Linked DNA regions of Homo sapiens: regions 1, 2, 3 and 5 are each reported to be linked to region 4. The links are microRNA targets in miRTarBase. Many come from high-throughput screens and were not tested one by one. Region 4 holds a microRNA gene; each other region holds the end of a gene's coding sequence. Distances are from middle to middle.

Region 1 (3,000 bases), not on the chromosome of region 4:
GATTCAATGACATCTAATGACCTTAATAAGAAATTTTATTCTTATGGGGGCCCTTGACTTAGGGATAATTTCTCTTTTATATGTTTTTGATATGGCAGGCTAATGTATCATTTTGTTCTTTTATTCCACAAACGCAGCAAATTCTAAGCCTAGGCCTGAGCAACTCAGTCTTTCTCAATCACATACAAACTGTGAATGTTGCTATGACTTACTGTAATTTATTTTTGTATATGCTATATTGATTTATGAATGGTATTTACGCATATACTTCATGACATAAAGCCAGTAGAGAACAAATAAGCATGGATACAGTAAGTATAAATATAAATTTCCATATGATTTATTGTTGTTCCTTGTACATAAGAAACAGTAATATACAACTTACACTGCTTTAGAATGTAAAATGGATAAAAATGTGTACAAAAAAAAGCACATTCCTAGAAAAAGGTATTGGCAAATAGTAAAAATGGGAGGTCAAAAGCAAAAAAAAAAAAAAAAAAAAACAAAACAAAAAAAAGAAAAAACCAACAATTCTTCAATTCAGTGTGCAAACATTATATAAAAATAGAAATACTAACTCTACAGGCAGTATTTCCTGATAAATTATTTAAATAGCATATCTACACAATCTGAGATATCTATTCCAATGGCAATGAGAAAATAATTTATAAAAATAAAGCAATGGTATACCAGATGATAGAAAAAAAACATAACTTTCAGAAATTGTATTTAACATTTCAATGCTATTTCCTTATTGGGAATACTTCTCTGCAGAGTTTTTATGCTATGTACAACACTGACTTTTTAGGTACTACAGTAGCTTTAAGTTTGTTAGACACTTAAACTCTTTCCGCTTGATCCAAAAATTCTTTACTCAGTCACACAACAAATGAGGTAATATTTGTATGTAAGTTTCACCTTTTGTCATTTTTTTCTCTTTTGGAAAAATGAAAGAAAAAAGTGTATATGCTTTCCTTCTCCCTGGAAATATGCACAAGGGATGGGGTAAAACAGTATTGAAGACCTCATGGCTTTCTTTGCAATTTAAAACATTTGCAAATGGATAACCAACTAATTCCACTTGAAAAGATAAAACAGAGAAAAAAAGAATCCCATAACATCCACTCTGAGCACAAGGGGCAGAGCAGCTTATTAGACTGATTTTCCTTGTGCTGTTCTTGCAAGAGATTTGCTGATAAATGTCAACTACTTGCTCTCAAACACTTTCCGTATGAAGCCTAAATTTCCAGGCAGAACAGAGTTAATAAATAATCTGTATTTACAATCTTACAGTCACGAAGACTCTCAACAAAGATGACATGGATAGTCTTTACGCTTCTTCCTGTTCCATGAATAATCCTTCAGCCAGATCTTCCAGAATAAGTAAAAAATAAATATTTTACATCGTAAAGCATTTAAAAAAAATCTACATTCCAAAAGAGAGAATTAGAAAACTCCATGATAATTCAGGAAAAAAGAGAAAAGGAATGTTTTAGTTAGGTTGATAATAATTTTGTGCCATTGTAACCATAAAAATATAAGCACGGCTGCCCCTCCTTTGGGAGGCAGCTGGTGCTCACTGAGATGGTAGGTTTTCCTATTTTCCTGCTACATCTGCACAAGCTACATCTAGAATGAAGCCACCAATTTCAATGTGACCAGGCAATGGCAGCCAGCACTGCCTTACACTGGTTTGATTCTGATTCCCTAATTCTGGCCACTGCAGGTGATGAGTAAGGGTGGGGATCAGGGAGGAAGTCCAGAAGCCAGTCTTTGTCTCCCTTTCCTGCTTCTATTTAAGTGCCTATTTACATGGGTTAATCAGCTAACGCCAGTCAGCATCATGAAATCCAGCAATAGTCTTTCAATCCCCTGAAAATGACTTAGTACCGAACATGTAACAGTTCCTCCATATTTTCTTCATACAATCGTCTCGGGTATGCGCCCTCCCCTTAGTGCTTTGGCCTCTGCTCCCCGTGTTCCTGAAGGAGGATGTCAGGGTGGTTTTGTTTGCTAATTCTAGTGAGTCCTCCCTTCTCTGACATGCCTGAAAATGCTTTTGAGTCCACTGCTCAGAGATGGCCTCACAATAGCACCCTGCTCTGTGACAAAGGCAGAGTGGAATGGGCACCTTCCCAACTGAAGCAAGTAGATGCTTTTTCAAAAGGAAACCAAAGCAATTGTTTATATGCTTGGAAGATGTCTTATTCATTGGAGGCTGAATGCTGAGTCTGTTTTTGAAAACTGCATTTTCTTGAGGCAGGTCGCACGTTCTAGGAGTCCACACTGATGCAAGCACAGAAAAGAAGGAAGCCAAGGAGAAGTGATCCTGGGGGTTTTCTCAAGCCCATAGTTCCAGAAGGTGCAATACCAGCATTGGTTTATGATCAGTCTTTCAATCAACAATTTGATGATTAGGGATCTGTTAAATAAACAAATATAAATAAATATACAAATGAAAACTAATTCATAAAAGCATAGACATCTTAGTTAATAAGTTAACCACATAGGAATAGCTCTACTTTTCTAATGACAAAAGCCTAATTTTAAGGTTGTTCAAGCACATTAGCATTTAATTTTATTAGCTGACATTGATGCTAGGAGACCGACACAGCGTGAACCTTCCAGAACATATATTATGCTTTCCAAAGGCTTTCAATGTTAACAGTTTAGGGAGTCTTATTTTAAAAATTTGGACTCAAAAATTACATTAATAATTTAGATTTTTTTGAGTAAAATCAACCATCTTTCTCTACTGTCATTGATCTTTTAGGTATCTGGCCTTGGCCCAGTAAATATATATTAAGCACTTATTTTGTGGTAGAGCCAGTGTTGGACTCAGCGAGCTTAAGTAATGACTAAGTAAAAAAGAATGAGGAAAAAAAATGCTAAGTTTAATAGTGAACATTAATTTAACATGCCAATATGAAAGCAACATTCCTCTCCCTTCTTTGTATACAGGGAAAAGTTGGGAATGCTAACTCGTGCTGTGATGGCATG
Region 2 (3,000 bases), 21 Mb from region 4:
TCAGCGCTCTGGAGTTGGAGCGGGCTTACAGTGAAATAGAACAACTGCAGGTGAGCTGAAGAGGAGCAGGTGGGCAGAGGACCGCAGTCAGAGGGTCAGAGAGAGCCTGAGATGTCCAGGCGTGCAATGAACGAGCAGCTGGCAGTGGGGCTGGGCTAGGCCCTGTATAATGGCAGGGCAGGAAGAGGCCGACCATACTTAAATTTAAAGCAACTACAGGGACAAAGGTCTTTGGGGGTCCAAAGCAATCATAAGGTAAGCTCCCAGCACAACTTGAATGCAGCTAAAGGGGTTTGCAAGTAGACTCTGAGGATCAGGAAGCTCCGCACAGTGTTCAGACAGAATAGTTTTAGCTCCTCCTCAATAGTGCCTGTCCACTGAGGAGGCAAAAACTCTGAAGTTTCTTTACTTCTAGAACTGTCCCAAGAAAGCCCAAGGGTAGAAGGGAGAATTCTCAAGTTGAACGTCAGGCTTGGCAGAGGTGGAGTGTAGATGAAAACAAAGGTGTGATTATGAAGAGGATGTGAGTCCTTTGGGTGTAGGAGAGAAAGGCTGTTGAGCTTCTATTTCAAGATACTTTTACCTGTGCAAAAAGCACATTTTCCACCTCCTTCTCATGGCATTTGTGTAAGGTGAGTATGATTCCTATTCCATCTGCATTTTAGAGGTGAAGAATAACGTACAAGGGATTCAGTGATTAGCAAGGGACCCCTCACTAAGTGTTGATGGAGTTAGGACAGAGCTCAGCTGTTTGAATCTCAGAGCCCAGGCAGCTGGAGCTGGGTAGGATCCTGGAGCTGGCACTAATGTGAGGTGCATTCCCTCCAACCCAGGCTCAGATCCGGAACCTGACCGTGCTGACCCCCGAAGGGGAGGCAGGGCTGAGCTGGCCCGTTGGGCTCCCTGCTCCTTTCACACCACACTCTCGCTTTGAGGTGCTGGGCTGGGACTACTTCACAGAGCAGCACACCTTCTCCTGTGCAGATGGGGCTCCCAAGTGCCCACTACAGGGGGCTAGCAGGGCGGACGTGGGTGATGCGTTGGAGACTGCCCTGGAGCAGCTCAATCGGCGCTATCAGCCCCGCCTGCGCTTCCAGAAGCAGCGACTGCTCAACGGCTATCGGCGCTTCGACCCAGCACGGGGCATGGAGTACACCCTGGACCTGCTGTTGGAATGTGTGACACAGCGTGGGCACCGGCGGGCCCTGGCTCGCAGGGTCAGCCTGCTGCGGCCACTGAGCCGGGTGGAAATCCTACCTATGCCCTATGTCACTGAGGCCACCCGAGTGCAGCTGGTGCTGCCACTCCTGGTGGCTGAAGCTGCTGCAGCCCCGGCTTTCCTCGAGGCCTTTGCAGCCAATGTCCTGGAGCCACGAGAACATGCATTGCTCACCCTGTTGCTGGTCTACGGGCCACGAGAAGGTGGCCGTGGAGCTCCAGACCCATTTCTTGGGGTGAAGGCTGCAGCAGCGGAGTTAGAGCGACGGTACCCTGGGACGAGGCTGGCCTGGCTCGCTGTGCGAGCAGAGGCCCCTTCCCAGGTGCGACTCATGGACGTGGTCTCGAAGAAGCACCCTGTGGACACTCTCTTCTTCCTTACCACCGTGTGGACAAGGCCTGGGCCCGAAGTCCTCAACCGCTGTCGCATGAATGCCATCTCTGGCTGGCAGGCCTTCTTTCCAGTCCATTTCCAGGAGTTCAATCCTGCCCTGTCACCACAGAGATCACCCCCAGGGCCCCCGGGGGCTGGCCCTGACCCCCCCTCCCCTCCTGGTGCTGACCCCTCCCGGGGGGCTCCTATAGGGGGGAGATTTGACCGGCAGGCTTCTGCGGAGGGCTGCTTCTACAACGCTGACTACCTGGCGGCCCGAGCCCGGCTGGCAGGTGAACTGGCAGGCCAGGAAGAGGAGGAAGCCCTGGAGGGGCTGGAGGTGATGGATGTTTTCCTCCGGTTCTCAGGGCTCCACCTCTTTCGGGCCGTAGAGCCAGGGCTGGTGCAGAAGTTCTCCCTGCGAGACTGCAGCCCACGGCTCAGTGAAGAACTCTACCACCGCTGCCGCCTCAGCAACCTGGAGGGGCTAGGGGGCCGTGCCCAGCTGGCTATGGCTCTCTTTGAGCAGGAGCAGGCCAATAGCACTTAGCCCGCCTGGGGGCCCTAACCTCATTACCTTTCCTTTGTCTGCCTCAGCCCCAGGAAGGGCAAGGCAAGATGGTGGACAGATAGAGAATTGTTGCTGTATTTTTTAAATATGAAAATGTTATTAAACATGTCTTCTGCCAAACTGTTTTTAGGTCTAGGGAAAATTGAGTAAGGAGAAGAATCCAAGGGAAGGGAATGGGGAGTCGTCCCGAGGGACCCACTGCCTCCCCACCTTCTTCCCTTCCCCTTCTCTCCCCCTCCCCTCCCCAGTTTCCAATGACCACACGGCTGCTGTCAGATGAATGACTTTTAATCCAGCCCCACACCCCAAGGTGGCAGAGGAGTGATGCTGGAGCCCGGGGCAAAATGCTGGGGCCCGGGACACGGCTGAAAGTTCCGTCGTGCTGCTTATTTTTGGGCTCCTAGGTGTTGCGCACAACCAGCGACTGCTCCAGCTCCTGCCTGCGCTGCTGGATCTTTAGAGGAAGTGAGAACAGGAGCAGGTGTCAGTGTTCTGGTGAGTGATCAGGACAATCCCACCTACTGACACCGCCTGCCCTGAAAGAGCATCTGGGAGCAGGGAGGGCCATTGCATGGTGAGGCAGCGTGGTGAAGCTTTACTGTGGGGAGCTGCGAGGGCTGCCCACAAGCTGAACAGGGAGGTTTCTCTTGGAGTTGAGGATGGGGAAGCCTCAGGGCAAGGGTCCCTGCATACCTTGCAGTAGAAGTAGCGACTGACGGCCTCCTGGGACCAGGGCTGGTGGTAGAACTCAGCCCGGCGCTCCTCTTCAGGGTTGCCGGCTACATCTGTCATCACCTGGGAGGGAGCGTGGGGTGAGCCCTGAGCCCTGAATCCCCTC
Region 3 (3,000 bases), not on the chromosome of region 4:
CTACTATAAAAGTATTTATTCTGTTGTTGGCTTAGCCACTTGTATTCAAGCATTATTTGCAGCATTGCTTTACAGCAGTTGGTGCTAGAAGATACAAAACATATAGTTACCACTATTTATACTTGAGGGAGAAAAAAAACTTTAAACAACCCTGAGGGAGACACACATTAAAAATCTTGTTATTTATTTAAAAAGTTAAAAAGTTACATATCATTATTTAACAATTACTTTCCCAGACATTTCTGTCCTTTAAGTATGTGCATAAATAAAATTTAAATCAGCAATATTCATCTTAATACATCAAAATAATATATGTACAGATTTTAAAATTTAGGTCTGTATAAACTCAAATAATTTAATGTGAAATTCAGAATCAAAATTACTATGTAATGGTAACCTACGAGAGAAGACTCAGTCTATCTATGGCACTGAGTAGAACCCACACCTGGCTTCACAGGCATTCTTCAAATAACATTCTCAACGTGAATAACCCACCTTGTCTATATTCAAATCTAACTTCCTACAAATGCTTTTCCAGCCACCTAAACACCTCATTCCTTTGAAAACAATATGGACAGAAGAGATATAAAACCCTTACTAACTCTAAATGTTAAAAAAGTGGGGGGGGGGTGTCAAAAATAGCTCTTTATGATCATGCTCTTAAAGATGTTAAATACAATCGGATAATTGAATTTTTAAGCTGCTACTTAGCAATTACTTTCATTATATGCTTCAGTACTTAAACCAAAGAATAAAATGCACAATTGTGGAAATCACTGAAGAATAACACGAGCATATTTGAAATTAATATGGAAATTATAAAATGATCCAGAGAATAAGTAACTATAGAAAATAGTGCTAATTCACAGCTCAAGAGGTCTAAGATGCATAGCTTCATAGAATCATTCATGGAACAACTGTTATCATCTAATGTGTATTAATAGCATATTATACATTTGATGGAAAACTTCGATTATATTTTTGCAGGAATCATCAGTGGCAATAGCAGTAACAGTGATCCTGAGTGTAATTTCTATTTTTCTATAGTTACCAAACATCATCCAGGTCTTTGCAGCATAAAGAGTGAGAACCATTTGGTCCTAAAATTCTAGGTAAAATTTGGTAAATTTGTAAATATATGTTGGGAAAAGAATGATCAGCTAGAAGTAGAAAGCACGAGCAAGCATGTTACTGGCTCTGGAAGAACAGAGAACAATGTCACACTGTTTTCATAGTTTAGCGTCCATTTTATAGCACGATCAGTTTTCTGTGTTGTGGTAACTGTGGGCGTTGCCAGACTGCTGGATCCACCTATAAAAGGTGTTTTTTAAAAGTTACCTTAATTTTGGCAAGAATTTAAATGTTAATCAGGCCAAACAGAAAGGTGAAAAATGTTTCTCCACATCTCTTTTGGCTCAATGAATGTCAATTTTTTAACTTTATTTCCTCAATTTTTTTTCTCCCAGAAATTTCCGCATCAAATATGCTCATTTGTAACGATCCAATTCAAAATAGACATGTTCTGACCTCTGGCGCCACCTAATGGCATAAAACAAACTCATCAAATTCATATTGCTTTGAAAAAACGGCAGCCATTCAAATCCAGTATTTTTTAAGCCTCATTATTGATAAGACAGAGACATACATCAAACCTCAAAAAATTTTATGAGGTAAAATTCTAACTTAAAAAAAACTATTATCCTATGTCTTTAGGTAATTGAAAACATAGAAGAAAATTTTAAAAAACCATTTAAAATAACACAAAGCCTGACAGAAACAAATTTGAAGAAACGTTAAAAGATGAATCTACATCTACTGCCGAAAGAAATGAATCTTATTTCCTAGTGAAAAAGGTTCTACAACATTTAACAGAAGCAAATTAGACTGCCAACACCACACATAGCACAGGAGCCATTTAAGAGCTTTGAGAGGCGTCTCAAGAAGGCAGTGAAGCACCTTGCTGATTAGAAAAATAAAACCCAGGCAGTTTGTACAGAAAATATAAAACCAGAAATGGAGATTACCTGAGTTGTTCTATAAGCAACACCATAAACACTCATTCCTAACTCTAGACCATCATAGGGAATTGGCATATGTTTATACAGAATTCTTTGGAAGAAACATTGGAATCAAATGAAAACAGGCTTTCAGTATATTTTCACTGGAGGCTAATTAACACTCATCTTCTTTTTATCAATCACAAACTTACAGCCTGTATATAAACACAGACTTTTCTAACAAGAGGGTTGTGAGCATAAATGTGAAGAGGTAAACTAGTCTCAAAAACTAATGTTGAAAAACCTACCAAACACCAAACTTCTCCTGTACCCAATATAAAGAATATCACTGAAAGTAACAATCAAGAAAATTCTGGAAATGTATGTAATATTTGGGTTGCTGAATGAAGATATAGGACTTTATGGATTGATTGTTAATTTAACTGTTAGGACGATATATTTTTCTGTTTTTATTTTAAGGAAGAGCAAAGCTGTCAAATAAGCTACTATATCAGAAGGGACATAAACTGAACTAGTGCCATTCTGACACACAGGATCAGAAACTCCTAAAATCACATATTCCTGAATACTGCTATCAGCAATACCACTGAGACTGATTCACTGCTATGTTATGGTGATGATTTGACATGATCCATTCTCCTTAACTAAAGCTTTAGCTTCTGTGGTTGTCTGAGGTTTTGGTGGCCATTCTGGATCAACCAAGAGCTCCTGCGCCAGATACATGTACTTTGCCTTTGGTGTCTTCTTTCTACAGCCCAGGGCCCAGGGTAAGCAGCATTTTCCCCACCGATCCACTGACTCCTAAGAAAATAAGAAAAAAACAAAACAAAACACCCCAGTTGATTAAAGGCTTGTCGTTTTAAACAGGTTTGTTAAAGCACACATTAGCAGAGAAAAATAAGAGGAAATGACTTCTGAGCACAACGAATGGGGGAAAAAAAAATCCATGTTAAAAAAAGGCAGCTTTGGCCGGGCGTGGTGG
Region 4 (3,151 bases):
GCTGATGTCCCAAAGCAGGCCCGCCCACCCTCGGAGAGGCTTCCAGAGTCGTGCCTCTGCTCAGAGGCCAAACCTTCCCCACCAAGCCTCTCCTTTCGGGCAGAGGTGTCCTCCCCAGCGCCCAAGCCCAGGCTGCCGGTCCGGTCTGGGTGCCACCGAGGTCCTGGACTTGGCCCTGGGGATGGCCTGGATCTGTTTGCATCTTAAGCCATCATCCCATCTCACTCCACCCTAAAGGGCAGGCAGGATGGGAGGGGTGGTGGCGGTGGCGGCGGCAGCGGTGTCATTTTGGGGGCCCTGCCAAGTCAGCTGCTCCCCCAGCCGGGGCATGTTCGGAAAATGAGCCTGCTCATGGTGGGCCCATACTGCCCAGGAGGCTTGAGGGCAAAGAGTCCCTTCCAGGCTGCAGGGGAGGCATGGGGATGCAGGGTTGGGGGCAGGCAGCCTGCACCCTTGCTAAAGGCTTGAGATGCCTTCAGGACACTTCAACACCCCTTGGGAAAGGACCTGGCCTCATCAGGGGAAGTGGGAACACGGAAGTGTGCTGCCCTTGGGTAAGTGACTGGCGGTCTGGGGAAATGCCACTCCGAGAATCAGATCGCAGCCAGCCCTCAAAGGGTCTGGGTGTGTGCAGGGCTGCTGGGTGTGTGCAGTGGGTTCTGTGGTCAGGAGAGTGCCGTCTGGATGGGAGATATTTGGTTGGTTTTAGCTTGGCCCATTCCTGCCACTGACTGATGGCCCCAGAGGCTGCCTGTTCCCGTTCCTGGGTAGAAGGTCCCAGCGCCATTGTTTGTCCACTGCTTTTAGGGAAGAGGCCTTGGCAAGTGGAATGCTCTTCCTCCCTTGGACTTGATAGGGAGGAGGAATGTTTTGTGTAGCAACTTCCCTCTCTCCCTTTGGGGTGGGCAGCCTGTGAGCTTTAGGCTCTAGGGAATGGCTTGGGAGCATCTCTCTGGATTAAATGGAGCAGTGACGTGGGCTTAGTAAATAGCAAAACCCAGCCCACATTAGCCATCTCTTCCCCAGCGCCCAGGGGCAGGGCTCTCTGGCCTGGCTTGTGCTGGTTCCCAGAGTCCCTGCTGTCAGGTGCTGGGAGTGGAGGTGCCCTCGGGTTCCCTTGGGAGTGGTGACCACAGCTCAGGGCCTGGGTTGGATCCTGGTGGCTGCCCTAGGGATGGTGTCTGCTCCATGCCTGCCCACAGGAACTGCAGGTTACAGATATGAGGGGAAGGGAGGAGAGGAGGGGGCTGAGGAGGGACCGGGACCAGCAGGAAGGGGGACTGTGGGGTTGGGCCTCCACACCAGGGCGACCCTGCAGGAAGGACCTTGTCGCAGTTGCGGGGATGGGCGCCTCTGTCCTGGCCCTGCCTGGACCATCCTAACTGTCTCTGTCTCTTCCTCAGCACAGACCGAGGCCTCCCCAGCTCCTGGGGGGAGCTGCTTGCCTCCCCCCGTTTTTGGCAATGGTAGAACTCACACTGGTGAGGTAACAGGATCCGGTGGTTCTAGACTTGCCAACTATGGGGCGAGGACTCAGCCGGCACCCTGTGCACAGCCAGCGAGGGAAGGGCCGGCCATGCTGGACCTGCTGTTCTCCGCGAGGAAGGAGGGGACTCAGGTCCCGGACTGCTGGGTAGTGGCAGAGGGCAGGTGCAGCTGGAAGTGACACTCTGTGTTTCCCTGCATCCCCCTGAGGTCACAGGTCCTCAAGTCAGCTGGGAAGCCGTTCTCTGGCCCTCAGGGGTGCTGCCAAGAGGAGCTGGGGTCCAGCTCTGCTCCAGGCTGTGGCCCTGGAGTCTGAATCGAGGAGTGAGGGAACTGGGGGATGTTTGGTTTCAGGGCTTTGGCCTGGCTCCTCTGGGTGGTGAACCTTCTCACCCTCTCCCCTGAAAGGCCCTGTTCAGGGTGGGCTCTAGGGCCCCGAGGGAGGGTCTCCTAACCTTCCACAGGTCACTAAGAGTGGTTCCTTCCTGGGCTGCTGGCTGGGAGGATGAGGGCAGGGAGGGCACGCCGTGCATCACGGACATCCAGTGATCCTGCTGAGGCCATGGAGGGCCAGATGGGATAAGCCTCCAGAGATGTGCAGGAGGAGAGTGTACAAGTCACTTGTGTAAATGCGGGACTGGCCCCCTGGGGTGCAGGTGGCCCATGGGCTGGACCTCTATGCCTCCAGCATTCCACTTCATGGATTTGTTCCTCCTGACGCCTCAGAACCTGAGACAAAGCCTCCACTCACCTTCCCAGAGCTTGTGTTTGCAGTGGGAGCTCCCCTGAGCCGGAGCCGGGCCACAGGGTCAGAGTGAGTGGCACTTCCCAGAGAGTTGGGCTTGGTGGGCAGACCTGCTGGGGAAGCCCGGCCCTGGAGTCTCCTGGCCTGCAGATGGCTCAGGAGCCAGAGTGGGAGCTGCGCGTGTGGTTGAGAGGGTGTGGGTGCAGGTGTAAGTGTGTGTGTGAGTGTGGCCTAGCCCGCAGTGAACGGTGCAAATGCAAATGTGAAGGCCTATCCCCTGCTCCCCAGCCCTCGGCCTGCCAGCCTTCCTTCTCTGGTGCTCCCCATCCCCCAAACCCCTTCTATCAGCCCCCATCAGCCCTCCTTTCTCCTCACCTGCCCTCGGAGGGTCATGTGTGGTTCCATGACCCACCAACCCCTGTGGCTGGGCAGGGCGGGGCAGACATCTATCTGGTGGCTCCAGGCTCAACCGGCTCCGTGCAGCTCACTGCGCTCTTTTGGGGAGACACAGGCCGAGTAGGGAAGGTCTGAGCCGGCAGCTCTTGAGACAGAAAGAGAAGGGAACTGTTCTCCCGCAGGCTGCACTATGCATGTTACATGCCGTGAGCACAAGCAGACGCTGCGTAAACAGGCTGGCTCTGCAGGGCATGAAGAAGGCTGCTCTGAGCTAGGGCCACACGGCACCTGCTGGGACACAGGGAGGGGTGGGGAGTCCTGGAAGATGAGTGACCCTCAGGGAGAGGAGGAGACTCCTGTTGGAGAGCACACAGATTTCCTGGGGTCTATGCCGGGCTGGAAGGCTGGCCATCTTAAGGCTGCATTTGTTCCCGAACCTAAGGACCATGGGAGCCACGCAGCCAGAGGGGGTGTGATCAGATGTGTGTTCTGGTTGGATGGCTCTTGTGGCTGTGTGCAGAATGA
Region 5 (3,000 bases), not on the chromosome of region 4:
GAGACTTTGCCAACTAAGAGGTAGTTACTTATTTTTGCCAAAGAAAAAAGTTCTACAGATATTTTCAGACATTTGAGCCAGTGGGGTTTAAAAAAAGTCTTGTCCTTAATTGCTTGTGCATTGGTAGATCCTTGTTTCATCAAAATTTGTTTGCAAGATCTTTTAATACTCATCCATTCATTCAACAACTATTTATGCAGCTCCCATTGTACAGCAGGCACTATGCTAGGTGTTGGGATTCAGTGGTGAGCGGAAAAAGGCCAAGGGTCCTCAAATTGTGGTTCCTACAATTTGGTGGAGGAAGATATAGAATTATTAAATAATCAGACAAATTAATGAGAACTTACAACTCCATTAAGTGCTCTAAATTAGAGAACCTGGTGCTATAAGACCATCTAAAAGGGGATCTGACCGAGGTAAGGAGGTCAGGGAAGCTTCCCTAAGGAAGTGGCAATTGCATTGATATGTGCATGAGTAAGAGCTAAAACTGAATTCCATGCAGAGGAACTATTAGGTGCTAAGGTCCTGTGAGGCCAGTGGGCATGGCACCTGCTAGGAAAGTAGGACAGTGTGGCTTAGCAGAAAGAGCTGGGAGAAATGTGGTAGAGTCAAGGTTGGAACAAAAGGAGGGGTCAAGCCATGCAGGTGTTAGGCCATATTAGAGATACTGTCTTTATCCTAATTGTTTGCAAAACCTGTCAAGGTGTTTATAAGCAACTGGAGACAAGATCAGATTTGTCTTGAAGGGATCCCTAGAGTTAAAAGGCAGGAACACATTGGTGTGGGAGAGGGGGAAGAGTGGGTGAGAGGAGATGAGACTATTGCAGTAATCTAGGCATCAGATGGTGGTGTCTTTGATCAGAGTGGTAACAGAGAGTAGGCTGTAGAGAGGTTTGAAGTAAAATAAATGACTTGGTGACAAATAGGATGATATATGGCATGACTCCTGAGTTCCTCTGTTGGTCAAAATCTTTCCAAATTAAGGATTATGCTAGACCTGACACATTTATTCTCCAAAGAAATATTTGTTTCAATGACTCTTTGGATTCATTTATTCAATCAATATTTATGGAGCACCTATTATGTATTATTCTGGCTGCTGTGATACAGTAGACAAGGCAGTCTCTCTAATAGAGCTTGTGTCTGTTGGTGCCAGAAACTCTGGCTAAGGTGAAAATTAGTGCAATCACAATGGAAACAGTAAACTACTGGAGGTCAATTTTTCTTCTGGCAAATCAGAAAAAAAATGTTCTTAGTGCTTTATGATTTCTAAAGTCCCTTACTACTTTATAAAACCAGAAAGGCAGGAAGGTCTAAAATGAAGAGTCAGAGAAGACAATGGGGACACCCAAGGTCACAAAGCTATGAGAAATGATTACTTTGCGTCAGTTCTTCCAACTCTAAAATCAGGGTTCCTCCTCCTTTTTTATTAAGACCATAATCAAGGACATTGAAAAAAACAGCCTGCTGAGGAAGGGGTGCTTTTTAATTAGCCAGTTTGAAAACAGATTCAAGGGCTTCCTCTCTCAAGTGGAAAAAAGCACATTTCTGGATTTAAGTCTAAGAAACGAAAGCGCACTTCTTTTGACTTTATCATTACCTAAAGTAACAGATTCTTTGTTGGCCAAATGAAGGCATGAAAATCAGGAAAATTCTGAGATTTTCTATTGATACATTATGGAAGGGAACAATTTCAGGTATGTATCTTGGAAGCCCATGCTGGTACTTGTGGGGGAGCTTGGAACCAATGGAAAGTAAATAAAGACAGGCATACATTGACCTTATTTGGCTTCTTTCTTCATTTGAGAAGCTTAATTATGTGAATAATTTTTGTGCTTGTCTCCATTACATTTACTTCTCATATTTAGCTGGTACTTAGATACAGAATCCTTTAGATCAGTGTTTCATTAACAAGCTTGATTTTTTTTTAAGATTAGAAAGCATAAATGCAGTGGTTCTAAGGATGTGACTTCCTTAGGTCTGCATAATGCTTATAGGTTTTAAAAAAAGAATTATCTGTCTGCAACTATCATTTCTCAGTTCTGAAGACTGTCAATTCTCACTGGGCAGGCACAAAAACTGAAATGTCTTTTACTATAAAGATGTTTTCCCTTTATCTGCCACATTTCCAGTTATCAAAAATAAAATCACATCTAGACTCCAAGTGTTCAATATTATTTATCAAAATAAATTTATTAAAAGTATTCAAAGACCACTTCAAAGTGTAGCTGCCTTCAAGACAGATTTTTGGCACTCATAACGGACACTGCAGTTTTCAACACCATAGCACTCATTCTATTTCACACATCATTTTTAACAATGCAAACACGGACCATTTCAGTTTTAGCATTACATGAGACAACAGTACTGATGATCTGTGGTCATAAGAACTTCAATACCGTTGCACATAGTAAACACTTCACTGTTACTGAATCCTAAACTAAAACTACTATGTGGTAACATGGATCGATTTAGGGAAAGATGTACAACCAGCTACCTAAGGCCACATAATCCCAGATCTATTGATTTTAAATGCTTTTGGACCAACAGTATTACATTGTCTCTTTCATCATCTTACATTCCTGCTTTTCAGAGTGAGACACCACGTTCAGACCACCTATTCCCTTCTTGCGTTCTGTACACAGTGAGGGAAGCTGTTCTGATACCAGCTTCTCCTAGTCAGTTACTGGCTTCCTGATTCACTACCCAACTTTGAATCAATAGTTCTGAGTGATGTTTCCTGAACACCCAGGCTGAATTCAAGGTCAGTCTTTATGGCAGGTCACAGTCCTTCCCCTCAGGAAAAAGAATGAAATGTCCTCCATTTCTGGGCTCCCTTTTACATTTCATGTAGCATGAGGCTCTGTGGTGATTTGTGGCTTTTTACACAAGTCCTGGTAGAATTCTGACTCCAAGAAACGAGGATAAGAGTTGTTCTCCATCAAGCTGTATACCCTTTTCTGGGCAGTTGTAAAGCAGCCACTTGTAGCTTCTTGTATA

The links. Region 4 holds the annotated microRNA hsa-miR-182-5p (UUUGGCAAUGGUAGAACUCACACU, at 1,457-1,480, shown strand). A microRNA usually pairs through its seed, bases 2 to 8, with sites in the 3' UTR of a target mRNA and lowers its output. Matches are read on the target gene's strand: a 7mer-m8 pairs with bases 2 to 8, a 7mer-A1 pairs with bases 2 to 7 and ends in A, and an 8mer does both.
Region 1: the mRNA of THBS1 is a reported target of hsa-miR-182-5p. Seed matches in the 3' UTR shown: 7mer-m8 at 451-457.
Region 2: the mRNA of SMARCD3 is a reported target of hsa-miR-182-5p. The part of its 3' UTR that is shown has no 7-base or 8-base seed match.
Region 3: the mRNA of ATP13A3 is a reported target of hsa-miR-182-5p. Seed matches in the 3' UTR shown: 8mer at 1,345-1,352.
Region 5: the mRNA of RGS2 is a reported target of hsa-miR-182-5p. Seed matches in the 3' UTR shown: 7mer-A1 at 2,247-2,253.

What each region holds. Positions count from the first base shown.
Region 1 is chr15:39,594,784-39,597,783 of GRCh38, reverse strand. THBS1 (thrombospondin 1) reads right to left here. Exons shown (of 22, transcript NM_003246.4): 22 at 1-2,422. The coding sequence ends at 2,415. It also overlaps a transcript of FSIP1 not described here. Among named protein-coding and RNA genes, the nearest start is that of THBS1-IT1, 10 kb to the right of the region's middle.
Region 2 is chr7:151,236,541-151,239,540 of GRCh38, forward strand. It overlaps SMARCD3 (SWI/SNF related BAF chromatin remodeling complex subunit D3), which reads right to left. Exons shown (of 13, transcript NM_001003801.2): 12 at 2,856-2,957; 13 at 2,240-2,616. The coding sequence ends at 2,563. It overlaps CHPF2 (chondroitin polymerizing factor 2), which reads left to right. Exons shown (of 4, transcript NM_019015.3): 3 at 1-50; 4 at 834-2,282. The coding sequence ends at 2,141. MIR671 (microRNA 671) reads left to right here and starts at 1,881; the gene lies at 1,881-1,998.
Region 3 is chr3:194,403,298-194,406,297 of GRCh38, forward strand. ATP13A3 (ATPase 13A3) reads right to left here. Exons shown (of 34, transcript NM_001367549.1): 34 at 1-2,819. The coding sequence ends at 2,622. Among named protein-coding and RNA genes, the nearest start is that of GP5, 5.5 kb to the left of the region's middle.
Region 4 is chr7:129,768,776-129,771,926 of GRCh38, reverse strand. It overlaps MIR182 (microRNA 182), which reads left to right and starts at 1,435; the gene lies at 1,435-1,544. LOC105375501 (a long non-coding RNA gene) reads left to right here and starts at 2,722. Exons shown (of 3, transcript XR_927963.4): 1 at 2,722-3,151. RefSeq lists an enhancer at 421-1,284.
Region 5 is chr1:192,811,443-192,814,442 of GRCh38, reverse strand. RGS2 (regulator of G protein signaling 2) reads right to left here. Exons shown (of 5, transcript NM_002923.4): 5 at 2,168-3,000. The coding sequence ends at 2,847. Among named protein-coding and RNA genes, the nearest start is that of RGS2, 3.9 kb to the right of the region's middle.